Regions from separate parts of the Homo sapiens genome. Here region 1 is linked to region 2. Evidence: fine-mapped expression QTL. Tissue or cell type: lymphoblastoid cells. Region 2 holds a variant in brackets; the other region holds the start of a gene. All regions are shown on one strand. Distances are between the middles of the regions.

Region 1 (6,336 bases), 64 kb before region 2:
TTGGATTTGATGGGTTCTGGGTCTCCTTGGTTACCCTCCAACATCCAAACAATAAATCTAATCCGCTGGGCAAGATTTCTGGTAAGCAGTAAATGTCTGCTATGATCTTGCTGATAAAAGTGAAGGTTAGTTGACTCTTTTTTTCCATGTCTTGAAAGCTCTGTTGATTTGGTAGTGTTTCTCAGAAATGAACTGAATAAGAATTGTCTTATAAAAAACACTGTTTAACAAATTTAAATATAACTCATCATTAGATCTTGTTAAAATGTAGGTTCTGATGCAGCAGAACTGGACTGGGGTATGAAATTTTGTATTTCTTAATAAGCTTCCAGAGGACATCAGCACAGTTGTCCTCCTAATCACACTTTGAATTGTGACAGTCAATAGATATTTCAAATATGCAGGTACCTAGGCCCTATGCCAATGTATTGATTCAGAATCTCTGGAGGCAGTGTCCAGGAATATTAATTTAAACAAACTCCTAGGGAGATATGAGAACCACTGATCTATGGGTTTGAAATATCCTCTATCTTATTCTCAACTTGTTTATTTTGTTTCTGAAAGCCCAGTGCAGGTCCCTCCTGCTTGATGCTTTTTTCATTGACCACCTCAGATGTAAATTCATTAACAGTTGTTGGCAGCACTTGCTATTTATCATGGGCTTTCTTTTCTTACATATATCCTGTCTCCTCAGATGTTACTTCTCGAAGTGAACAATTATATAGATTCTTGTAGCCTCAGCTCCTACCATAATGCTTAGCAGAGAGTAAATGTTTAATATGTATCATGGATAATAATGGTGATGGTAGTGGAAGATGAATTTCTCTCCAGGACACGTGACTGTTGCCCAGGCCTTGTGTGATTAAAAGAACAAGAGTCCTGCTGACTCCACAAAAGAAACAATCGTTAGCAAAAACTGCAACTCCCAACTATGGCACGTTTTTCAGAAACTGGTACCACAATCCTTTTGTACCTTGGTAGTTTGAATTTTATTATGGTAAATGGCACTTTAAAGGAAATAAAGTAATACTTTGAACTTAATATGTCTTTTATCTGTGAACCTCAAAGCAGCCTAATGCCATTTATTAAGTTACTGTACAGCCATGATGTAAATATTATCATACCTTCCTTACAAAAAAGCTGACTAGGGAAAGAGTTGTAATGTACTTGCCCAAAATCATAGCCATTCTAAGAAGGCCAAACCAAGAAACGGAGGAGTAGCTAGGTGGCTGACAGGTCAGCACTTCTCAGCATTTCCCAGACCTCAACTTAGGTGAGCTTTCCATAGGAGAGACGGCTAAGAAGTAACGGAAGACTATTTCAATTTGGGTGAACCAATTTCCTTTTCCTCCGTATTCCCATTACCATTGCTCTTGGTATCTTGTGATGCTTATACATTCTTATATTTAGGTTAAATGCCGACCATCTTCCCTCAACAACTTCCTTATCTATTTTCCAGTAATCTTGTTCTCCCTACCTCCTAGTTTACTATAGCAGCAGAGATATTAGATTGGTACAAAAGTCATTGCCGTTTTTGCCATTACTTTTAATGCCATTATTTTTAATGGCAAAAACAGCAATTACTTTTGCACCGACCTAATAAAATAACTGCCAGCTGAGGGGATCTGAAATGAGATTGGAACCCTAGTTTGACCGCTCACGAACTCGGCCTCTTAGGAGAGGTGTCTCAGGGAGTCAGTTTCTTCTTTGTGTGTGAAACGGAAAAGGACTACGCCCCTGTACCTTACTGAGGGATTGAGGCGATAGAACGCGATTCGTAAACTGCACAGCACTAAACGGATACCACTTTGTCCCCTTACTATGTCATTCCTTGTTTAATTTAATGCCAGGGCCACACAGCGCAGCATAACTAATAGGGATAGGGCGTGTCTGTAGGGAACTACCTCGAGGTAGATCTTTTTCTTTTGAGGAAAGGGGGAACGCGGAGCTGCTGGGAGTCGTAGTCTCGGCGGCGGTCTCCGCTGAGCTCAGACAAAGGAAAGAACTACAACTCCCGTGAGGCAGTGCGCGGACAGCTCGCACTGCCCCTCCTCCCCCAACCGGCGCGTGCCCCCAAGAGAAACTGGGGGCCTGCGCGCGCGCTGGGGACCTGCAGGGCAAGCGCAAAGGCAGCTTGCTAGTGGTAGCCGTGAGAGCAGATCGAGGAAAGGAGACCCTTGGCAAATTAAAAAATAAAAAGAACCGTGCACTATTGCCTCACCACCCGGACGGGCTGTAAACCCCCACTACTTCGGAGGCGTGGGGAGCGCGCTCCCGGGCTCCAGTCTAGAACTTCGGGGACTTAAATCAGCAAGGGCGGGAAGGGGCGGGGCCTAAGGCGCGGGGCGGGGCCGTAGGCGGGGCGGGCGGCGGCGGCGGCGGCGGAGCCAGGACCCAGACATCTGGGACTGTTGTTCTCTCGCGGCGCGACCGCCTCAGTCACTTCGCCCAGAGACCCGGACCTGGTCCGCTGGGGAGCAGGCGGCCATAAACCCCCTCTCTCCCGGTTCCCTGACGCCGCGGCAGGAGCTGTTACGAACACCCTGCGGTTGGTCTCCGATGCCCTTCAGTGAGGTGGGGACGCCTGGACCCTGGTGAGCGAACCCCAAGCCACCCCCCACCCCAACTCAGTGTCTTCGCCGGCCCCCGGCCCGTACGCCTGTCTGGTCGCCATGGCTGAAAACACAGAGGGGGATCTGAACTCCAACCTGCTCCACGCCCCCTACCACACCGGGGACCCTCAGCTGGACACGGCCATCGGGCAGTGGCTCCGCTGGGATAAGGTGGGTACCTGGTCAGCCCGGCAAACGCCGTCGCCTCCCCCACACAGTCTGCTCTTTCCTGTGCCCACCCAGCGCCCCGCGGGCTGCAGAGGAGATGGCTCGGGACACCGAGCGGGGGGCAGCGGAGCAGGGCGTTGCCACCCACCTATGCGTGGGGTTGCTCCTTCGGACTGCCAGAGCCGGGCGGCAACATCTGCATCGCTTCCTTCTGCAGTGCTCTCAATTGTAACCTCCCTTCCTCTTCTTTACCCTCTTTCCTTTCAAGTGCTGTCTTCCCTCTTTCTTCAAAAAAAAAAAAAAAAAAATCATCATCATTGTAAGTTATACCCTAAACAACGATTTCCTTTCCCTTTTTCTCCCTTGACTTCCTTCTCCACATACCTGAAAGTGGTTTCTGGCACCCTTACTGGGCGTTTCTAACCGCTATCCGCTTTAGTTCTGGTCTGGTGTGTTTCCTCCTTCTGTCGCTAGGTAGTTGCTGGCCTTTTATCACTCCCTGGTATTGTCTAGTATCACCTTTTGCTGTTGGGAAAGGCAAGGCGCTTACCTCTTCTTTCTCCTGCTGGCAGCTATTTTCTGGAATTAATCTGTTCAAGGAATCGTGTTTTCCAGGTTTCATGTGGTACTCTTAATACAGGATTGTTTTTGCCTTAACCATTACTTCTCTACCAACACCTCCCCACCCACCCTCCGCCCCCACCTCCAAGTTGTGGTGGTAATTAAACCTCGTGCGGGCATTTGGGATGAATTTGTGACAATCAGAATTAAAATGCAGCTATCTTACTTGTAAAAGAGGTCCCTGGTAGCTCCAACAGAGGAAGATAATCCAAGCTTTTGCTTTGTCAAGTGCGTAAAATACCTTTGTTGAAGTAGAGAAGGCAGCACATTTAAAATGGAATTAATGACACTGAATTAAGGAATTTGTATGGTAGTATGTGACATTATGTTGTACAAATGAATTTCCTTAAGGCTTCACTTTCTGAAAGTTTTGTTTTTACTTTATTCATTCATTCATTCAGCAAAAAAATATTGAATGCTGAGTGCGTGTTTTAGGTCTTGTTAGACCCAGGAAATACTTGTGAGGAAAATAGAAAGGGTTCCTGCCCTCAACAAGCCTCAGTTAGCAGATGAGGAAGACCAACAAATAAGCAACTACAATGAGGTATTTGGTGTTAATTGGTCATATGTATATTGGACGAATAATTCTTCCTCTACAGTCTAAACTAATGCTTCTCAAACCTTAATGTGCTTATAGATCACCTGGGGATCTTGAAATACAAATTCTGATTCAGGAGGCCTGGGGTGGGGCCTTGGATTCTGCCTAAGAATGAATTTCCGGCCGGGCGCCGTGGCTCAGGCCTGTAATTCCAGCACTTTGGGAGGCCGAGGCGGGTGGATCACGAGGTCAGGAGATCGAGACCATCCTGGCTAACATGGTGAAACCCCGTCTCTACTAAAAATACAAAAAATTAGCCGGGCGCGGTGGCGGGCGCCTGTAGCCCCAGCTATTCGGGAGGCTGAGGCAGGAGAATGGCTTGAACCCGGGAGGCGGAGCTTGCAGTGAGCGGAGATCGCGCCACTGCACTCCAGCCTGGGCGACAGAGCGAGACTCCGTCTCAAAAAAAGAAAAGAAAAGAAAAAAAAAGAATGAATTTTCAGGTGATACTAATGCTGCTGGTCTGTGGACCACACTTGGAGTAGCAAGACTTTTTGTTCTCTTTAGGTGCCAGTTTTAACTGTACTTTTCCTAATGAGTCTCCTGATTGATTTTTTTTTTTTTTTTTAAACAGGGTCTCACCGTGTTGTCCAGGCTGGAGTGCAGTGGCGCGATCTCCGCTCACTGCACTCACTGCAGCCTTGAACTCCTGGGCTCAAGTGATCTTTCTGCCTTAGCCTGCCGAGTAGCTGGGACTACAGGCACATGCCACCACGCCCGGCTAATTAAAAAAAATTTTTTTTTTTTTAGAAATGGGGTCTCACTATGTTGCCCAGGCTTGTCTTGAACTCTGGGCCTCAAGGGATTCTCCCACCTCAGCCTCCCAAAGTGTTGGGATTATAGGCATGAACCACCACACCCGGCCCCTGAATTATTTTTAAAAGATTGTTTGAATGAATTTATATTTATTGATTGTCCATTCTATGCCTATACATTGTTGGGATATACTGAAATATTAAAGAAACCTGTAAAATGCACATAAAATAATAATGCTAGGGTAGTTTTGGTGGCAATTAAATGGTTTGTAGGCAGTCAGTTCTTGCAGTTCAAAAGTAGGAGTAAACGGTGGACTGAGATGCTCAAGGAAGACTTCATTAGAAGATAGGATACATAAAAAGAATGAAGAGAGGTCAGGCACGGTGGCTCACGCTTGTAATGCTAGCACCCTGGGAGGCCAAGGTGGGCAGATCACCTGAGGTCAGGAGTTCGAGACCAGCCTGGCCAACATAGTGAAACCCCGTCCCTACTAAAAATACAAAAAAAAAAAAAAAAAAAAAAAAAAAAAGCCAGGCGAGGTGTCACGTGCCTGTAGTCCCAGCTACTCAAAGGCTGAGGCCAGAGAATCACTTGAACTTGGGAGGCGGAGGTTGCAGTGAGCTGAGATCGTTCCACTGCACTCCAGCCTGGATGACAGAGTGAGACTCCATCTCAAAAATAAATAAAACAAAATAAAAATAATGAAGATAAAACTTCATTGAAAGTGGAAGATAAATTCTTAATTTGTATTTAAAGTGCCTCTGAATATAAGGCATTAGCTGAAACCTGTGAGAGATAGAAAGATGAAATAGATATGGATCATATCTTTAAAGAAAATAGAAGGGAAGGAAAAGCATAAATAATAGGGGCAAGTAATAAGTATCCTTAACAGAGGAATAGATTAAGTAATTTGTTAATTATTTAATAAATATAATAAATTTCTTCATTGATCCTCTCTTAATAGGAGAGAATACATTTAATGGAGAAATTGTATCTACTGTAGATTGATACTATAGGTAAGCTAGACTGTCTCAGGGCACTGAAATTTAGAGTGCAGAAATGTAAAATAAGATCAGACTCATGGCATTTCTTACATTATATATTGATGGCATATGTAGTCTTTTAACAGAGAAACTGATTTTAACACCTGATGAATACCTATTTAATTAAAAAAGGAACCAAATGCCACCAATTCTTCATGACTCAGATGAGGCATATAATAAGTTTTAAATTGATTAGAGGTCAATTTGCTACTTGCGTTGGTCACTAAAATTACTAATCTTAGTCTCGGTTGGTGTATTTGAAAAGTCTTTATGAAAAAATGTTATTTGTGCTTGAACTTTCAGAATTAGTTAAAATTAGACTTGCTAACATAAGGAGAACTATGACAAGCATAGAGAGAAATTTTAATGTGTGTATTAAGAACTTTTATTTCTGCTGTTGCTCAGGGTACATAGAAAATTTTGGAAGGATGTGTAAAGACCAGGTCATAGAAGGGCTTTAGTATGTCTTGAAGGGCTTAAATACACACAGGTGTGTGTGTAAATGTTAAAAAGAAAACAATGCAACAAGACAGGTGTT
Region 2 (6,336 bases):
TTCTTCAGCCTAGTAAGAATGGACTGATCTGGCGTTCTGTTTAGGGGTACACCAATATGTCATGACACTGTGTGGGCATATGGAACAGAGCAACCGAGAACTGCATACATTGAACCTTGTGTTAGCATTCTCTCTCTATCTCATCTGGCCGAGTATCTTTTTCCTTTTATTTTCTTTCTTTTTGGTCAACTGGCTAGACTAAACAAAGTATAAGTTTGAAATGAAATGGTCTAGAGGGAAATGATTCAAATTTTTTCATAATTCAAACAAAAGTTATTACACTAAAAGTATTATAGTAACGTATTGTCCTTCCGTTAACAGAAACATCACAATTCAAAAGTGAGTTTTCTTATTATAGTGTGATTAAGCCTAGTTCTGTATCTCGTAATTGTGTATAGCATGGTAAAAGAAAAAAAAAAAGACAGGTAAATGTTATATAATTGTAGGGTTAGTTAAGGAAATTAGTCCATAAAATTGGCAAGAAAATGGTACTTTCCTTGATTGTTATGAAAAAGTGTCATTGTGACATCACAGGTATTAATTTACAAATTAGAGTATTTGAAATAGGATATTTAGCATTTCTGTAGTTTAGAACAGATGTTACAGTGTGTGGTTTTGGCATGTCTGTTTCAGGTGCCCTTGGTGCAGTATAAATTTACTGTATGTATTTAAAATTCTGATGTTTACTGAACATAAAACAATAGTGGCAACACTCCTATTGGCTTTGTTCTTATCAAATTTCTCAGTGCCTTCTCAGGGTCTGGTGTGAACAGAAAAAACAGTGTTCCTGCATTTACCATAATTTAATCAGTCAATTTGCAGATAGCTAAGGAAAATCTTCCAAAATCTGTAGGTGCTTCCTCTATATCAAGTGAGTTTGCTGATTTTAAAATCTTAGGAATATAAATAAAGATCTTAATAAAAGCAAGCTTAATGTAGTTAAGGATCTTCATATTAGAATTGTGTCATTTATCAAACCTTTTATTACAGAAAAAAATCTGAACTGAGAAAGGAGCTCTGAATTTATTTGACAGTCTAACTTTTGAATTACATTTTTGTAAGTAGATTTATTCTTTTATTTTATGAAGTAATGTTAATTTTACTAAGAATAAAACATCCAAATTTTAAGTATTATGAAATACTAAAACTACATGTTTTAAAACAGAGGTCCAGTTTATTCTAACATCTTGCTGACTTCTGTAGAATTTCTGATTGCATGACTATTATTTATCTTCTTTTAGTGTAGAAAATAATTTTTTACAAAAAGTCACTTTTGGGCTGGGCGCAGTGGCTCACGCCTGTAATCCCAGCACTTTGGGAGGCTGAGGCAGGTGGATCACAATGTCAGGAGTTTGAGACTAGCCTGGCCAATATGGTGAAACCCTGTCTCTACTAAAAATACAAAAATTAGCCGGGTGTGGTGGTGGGCACCTGTAGTCCCAGCTACTCGGGAGGCTGAGGCAGGAGAATTGCTTGAACCTAGGAGGCTGAGATTGCAGTGAGCCGAAATCACGCCACTACACTCCAGCCTGGGCAACAGAGGGAGACTCCATCTCAAAAAAAAAAAAAGTCACTTTTGGCTAATCATGCAGTCTTCTGAAAAGGTTTAATAGAGAAATGCTGTTTAGGCTGGGCTTGGTGGCTCACATCTGTAATACCAGCGCTTTGGGAGGCTGAGGCAGGAGGATTGCTTGAGGCCAGGAGTTTAAGTTACAGAACTATGATCACACTGCCGCACTGAAGCCTGGATGACAGAGTGAGACCTTATCTCAAAAAAAAAAAAAAAAAGAGAGAGAGAGAGAAAAAGAAATGCTGTGTTTAATCTTCTTAAAATGTATCTTGTCCTACATAGTTCTCAGAATACATATGGGGTATAGTTAGGAGATAACAATAACAAGACCTAAACAAATTGCTTATGGGAGATAGCACTGTAATTAGAGAATTTATTTCATATAAAATAATAATATAAAGTTTGAACTGATTAGAATGTTCCTTAAATCATGGTTTCGTTTGTTGCAGCTGTCAGCTAACATTTGGTTGAGCTCATATAATCCAAACCTAATTGTCCAACTATTGTATTGCCACTATTGTTAATTTGTTCCTTCCTTACTTTCTTATTGTTGGATCTTATATGACTGTATGACTGTAGATAATAGACAGCTAGCTAAATGTAGAGCACCATTTTTCTCAATGAGTTTGTTTTCAAAGGCTTTGCACTGGAGAAGATATGTGTAGAATTTTTGTTTTATTTTTAAAATGTGTAAAACATCTTTTGTTTTATATGCTTTTAAGAATGTAGATTGTAATTTAGGAAATGGCATATATTCTGCAAAGTGGTATAATGTTGTATATATGAAAAACAGGTATATTTGGTTTAGTTCTGTGTTTCAGTGACTGATAAACAAAAATGAAGCTAAAATGAATCAACGGCTCATTCATAGTTACTAAAGCCATGTCATGACTGTCATTCTATTATGAAGAAAACAGTTTTATTTGAGTGCTTTAATATAATGCAACATTTAAGTCATCTTAAGGTGAAAAGTTATTGAAGTGTTCTTCTCTCAAGTTAACAAAATTTTACAAATGTTCCTGAAGTGTATCGATTGAGGGAATTATTTTATTCTAGCCTGTCATGAGTCTGTCTGAGCATGATACTTAACATGAACTTGATGTAGTAGGTGCACATTTGCCTAACAGGATAAATTCAGTGATAGCCCAAGCTGGTCAGGAGAGACAGAAGTGCTGGCTAGGAGGTCTCAGCCTCGGGCACTACAATGTTTATCTTTTTCTTTTTGAACAATATTGTGAAAATGATTGCATTCTCATTGAGCATGAAAGTCAAAACTGGAATTTTCTAAAGCTTTGGAGAAAAGGAGAGAATTAGTAGGGCAAGATCAAAGCATACATTGGAAATAAACAGTAGAAATAAGCAAACAATATAAAGAGACACGGGAAATGCTTCTCGTGAAGGGCAAATGTAACACCATAACAGTAGGGAATAAACTGTGTCCCACCTGTTTACTTGTGTTTATTTGTTGTTATGATGAGTATGCACCTACCATTTTCCTTTATTGTGATCACTAAAATGAGGCCAAGGTTTAGGAGGTGAGAAAAAGTATCCCTTTTACGGATTCAGTTCCTGCTAGGATGTTGTATCAGAATCATGTGAGAACTCAGGAAGAGGTAGAGCAGAAATAAAAAGGAAGAAAATGTAGATTAGAAAATAAGACTTCTGAGAAAAAGTTCAAGGAATAAAGATTGTTTGACTCTGGAGAGGAGAAAGCTGTTGAGATAGTTTGCTAAGTTTGCTAATAAAGCTTTATTGAGTCTTTTATTGAAGGGTTCAAAGTAAGAAATACTATGCCATAGTGTTCTCCATCTCTAGTGAAGACAGAACCAGAGGGAATAAGGATCTTTTTTTTAAAGACAGCATGGAAAGTTTAAGATTTAGGAACTTCTTGAGAAATCTTCATAATATCTTCTATTCAAAATCTTTTTTTTATTTTTAAGGGAATAAAAATTTTAAAAATTAAGAGATATACAGATGACTTTTTAAGGGTCCTTCTTTCCAGCACATTTTTTTTAAAAACTCAGGTTAGAACAAAAATGTCATAAAGGGCACTAAAAGTAACATTTGGGTTTCACTCCATATCTAGAAGAATTTAGCTCACAAAACAATTTTTGTGTGTTTTGAGTAACTGATGCATAAGTGCAATGAATAATTTTCCTGCTTCACTGTTATTTTTAATTTAACCTGG[C/A]AAATTAAGTGAGACTTGAACAAAATTTTGTTCATCTTGAAGAATGTATAGTGGCTTAGGTTATTTGAGGTTTTCGTTTTGAATATATATGTTGTTATTTTGATGTAGATACGTTAGCAGATGGAGAGGTTCTAAGAGATTGGATACTTTGGAATGTCTTTATATAGGAAATAGACCTCCCATTTCTTAAGCAAGTTGCTTCTGGAATTGATGCAACAGGGATATTAGCTGTAGTTTAATGGATAAGTTGTTCTATGAGCTGCTGCTATCAGTACTTTTTTCCACATTTTCCATTGATATTTGTGATGCTTGAAAAATCCAAACTTCACTTGGATACATTTAATTTTATGCCTTTTTCTCTCTACCTCCCACTTTTCCTAGGCACCCTTGCACATTTTGTTACTGTGAAGGACTATTGCCCTGTTACCTCACTGATAAGAAATCTCAACTGTATTCATTCAGAATGCTTTAAGCTTAGTCATAAACTACATTTGCCTATGGACCTTTGGTTATTTTGTTAATGTTGTCATTATATTTAAGACTTATTGTAGGAAGTAATTTTAAATCTATTTCATAACCTGTTTTGATCTGTCTGCATACTGCTATATGTTAATTTATTACGGCCTTTTACAATTCACTTGTCATCTGAGATTGTTCTAGAAACTGATGAGGAAAGAGTCGTACTAACCAAAATGAATGGGCAATTGACATAACATTCTATTTCAGGTTTCCTTGTACTTGGGGAGCCAAAGCACAAGATCTAAGGAAATCTTATTCACATTTGTCCCTCAGAGCATCTTACCCTAAGCCATAGAGGTATAAATAGTAAGATGAGAATTGCTCATTGTCTGACTCCTTGCACAGCATGAATTTAATTCTAGTTGGAAACAAAGTTAGTGTTGACTACTGGTTACCTTAAAGTATTCACCATACTATATATTTATTAGACCATCTTTCCTCTTTGTTTATTCAAGACTATGTACTTATAAAAGAGAACCTATAAGAATGTGTAGAGTGACCAAATAGGGACAAAGTGACATACCTAGAGTTTGCTGCTCAAATTTTTCCACTAGCGTAACCCTAAAGCAGAGGGGCATGATGAAGGGGGAAGGGGTTCTGAGAGCAAAATCAGAATCAGCCTACCACTGACATGAAGTGTGTTCTGTCTTTAAAATGTAAGTGAATTTTGCATTCTTTATAATAAAACTTTTAATATAAAAATGATATGTTTAATCTTTACTGAAACTTATGCCACCACAAAGGAGCACCATGTTCATCACGTGGCTGCTCAGTTTTCTCCCCCAGTGCCCTCACCCCCAGTGGAGGCAAGTCCTTGAGCTACACACACTGGCTGTAGTGCAAGATATATAAACATAGGCCGGGCTCGGTGGCTCATGCCTGTAATCCTAGCACTTTGGGAGGCCGAAGCAGGTGGATCATCTGAGGTCGGGAGATTGAGACTAGCCTGACCGACATGGAGAAACCCTGTGTCCACTAAAAATACAAAATTAGCCGGGTGTGGTGGCACATGCCTGTAATCCCAGCTACTCGGGAGGCTGAGGCAGGAGAATCACTTGAACCCAGGAGGTGGAGGTTGTGGTGAGCCAAGATCGCGCCGTTGCACTCCAGCCTGGGCAACAAGAGTGAAACTCCATCTCAAAAAAAAAAAAAAAAGATATATAAACATAGAACATATCCAGACTATTTCCTGCCCTTGGAATCTGACCTTCAGAAGGATTAATGCCAAACTAAACTGACCTGAAACAGTTTTGTTACTATTGGCATTCCTTGACTAAAAAGGACCACCTGATGCTCAGTCCCGAGAGTAGGAATCGTGGTTTATTATTTTTCATATCCATACCACCTAGTTCAGTACCTGTTATAGAGTGTTTAATTGCTGATACTAGGAATTAAGGGATTTTTTAAAAGTAGCAAATAGTTTAAGGAACAATCAAAAAATGAATTTTCTAATTCAGTTTTTTCAATGAAGTCCCATCACTGAACTTTATAATGTAATGTTTATTAAGCAGACATCCCCTTAAATACTCAGTTTCTTTGGAGAGAGCAAAGCATATCTCTCTGTGGAAATTATATATAATGCCTGGTATTTTACACTCAAAGCAAGGTGTTGGCCAGGAAGGTAAAGAAATGGTGTCTATGTAGACTTAATATCACTAGTCTAAGTGTCATTTTGAGCCTAGTAGCACTACCTTCCAAGTGAGTCACAACAAATTTGATCCTATTTGGTATGTTTTTGTCCACTGTTATGATTCATCATGTATCTTACAAGAGCCACTCAAGCAAGACTCTGCTTCTATGTATGGTGAGGCCTTGTTGTTCTAGGCTAGAATAAACTCTTTGTATGCCTCATTGAATATGCCAGGTAAAATTTATGCAGTCAAGAATGAATTATTTTTCTGACTAAAGTGTGTAGCAGTAGTTCAAAATTGTGCCCTTGTTTTAACAGTTTCTGTCAACATCTTCTCATTTTTCCCTACAAAAACACCAGGGTGTATTATAAGTACTGCCTGTGAGAATTTGCACTTTATGTATTTGTGTGTGGATTTCTTGTGGTTTT

Which allele goes with the higher level. Alleles are on the strand shown, and positions count from the first base shown. SD is a standard deviation of normalised expression in the study named.
With allele A in place of C in region 2, the expression in lymphoblastoid cells of the gene that starts at base 2,401 in region 1 is higher (large effect, 2.0 SD a copy in GTEx).

The links. PIP is the estimated chance that this variant, and not a neighbour inherited with it, causes the effect.
Region 1: PGM2L1 starts here. The variant in region 2 is fine-mapped to the expression of PGM2L1 in lymphoblastoid cells (GTEx, PIP 0.97).

The regions. Positions count from the first base shown.
Region 1 is chr11:74,394,498-74,400,833 of GRCh38, reverse strand. It overlaps PGM2L1 (phosphoglucomutase 2 like 1), which reads left to right and starts at 2,401. Exons shown (of 14, transcript NM_173582.6): 1 at 2,401-2,783. The coding sequence starts at 2,673. It overlaps MIR548AL (microRNA 548al), which reads right to left and starts at 1,597; the gene lies at 1,501-1,597. RefSeq lists enhancers at 1,417-2,037, 1,937-2,306, 2,038-2,659, 3,751-4,250, 4,251-4,752.
Region 2 is chr11:74,330,360-74,336,695 of GRCh38, reverse strand. PGM2L1 (phosphoglucomutase 2 like 1) reads left to right here. Exons shown (of 14, transcript NM_173582.6): 14 at 1-6,336. The coding sequence ends at 44. The region is part of intron 2 of LOC112268078 (a long non-coding RNA gene); the gene reads right to left. Among named protein-coding and RNA genes, the nearest start is that of P4HA3, 22 kb to the right of the region's middle. The variant C/A (reference allele first, on the strand shown) is at 3,759.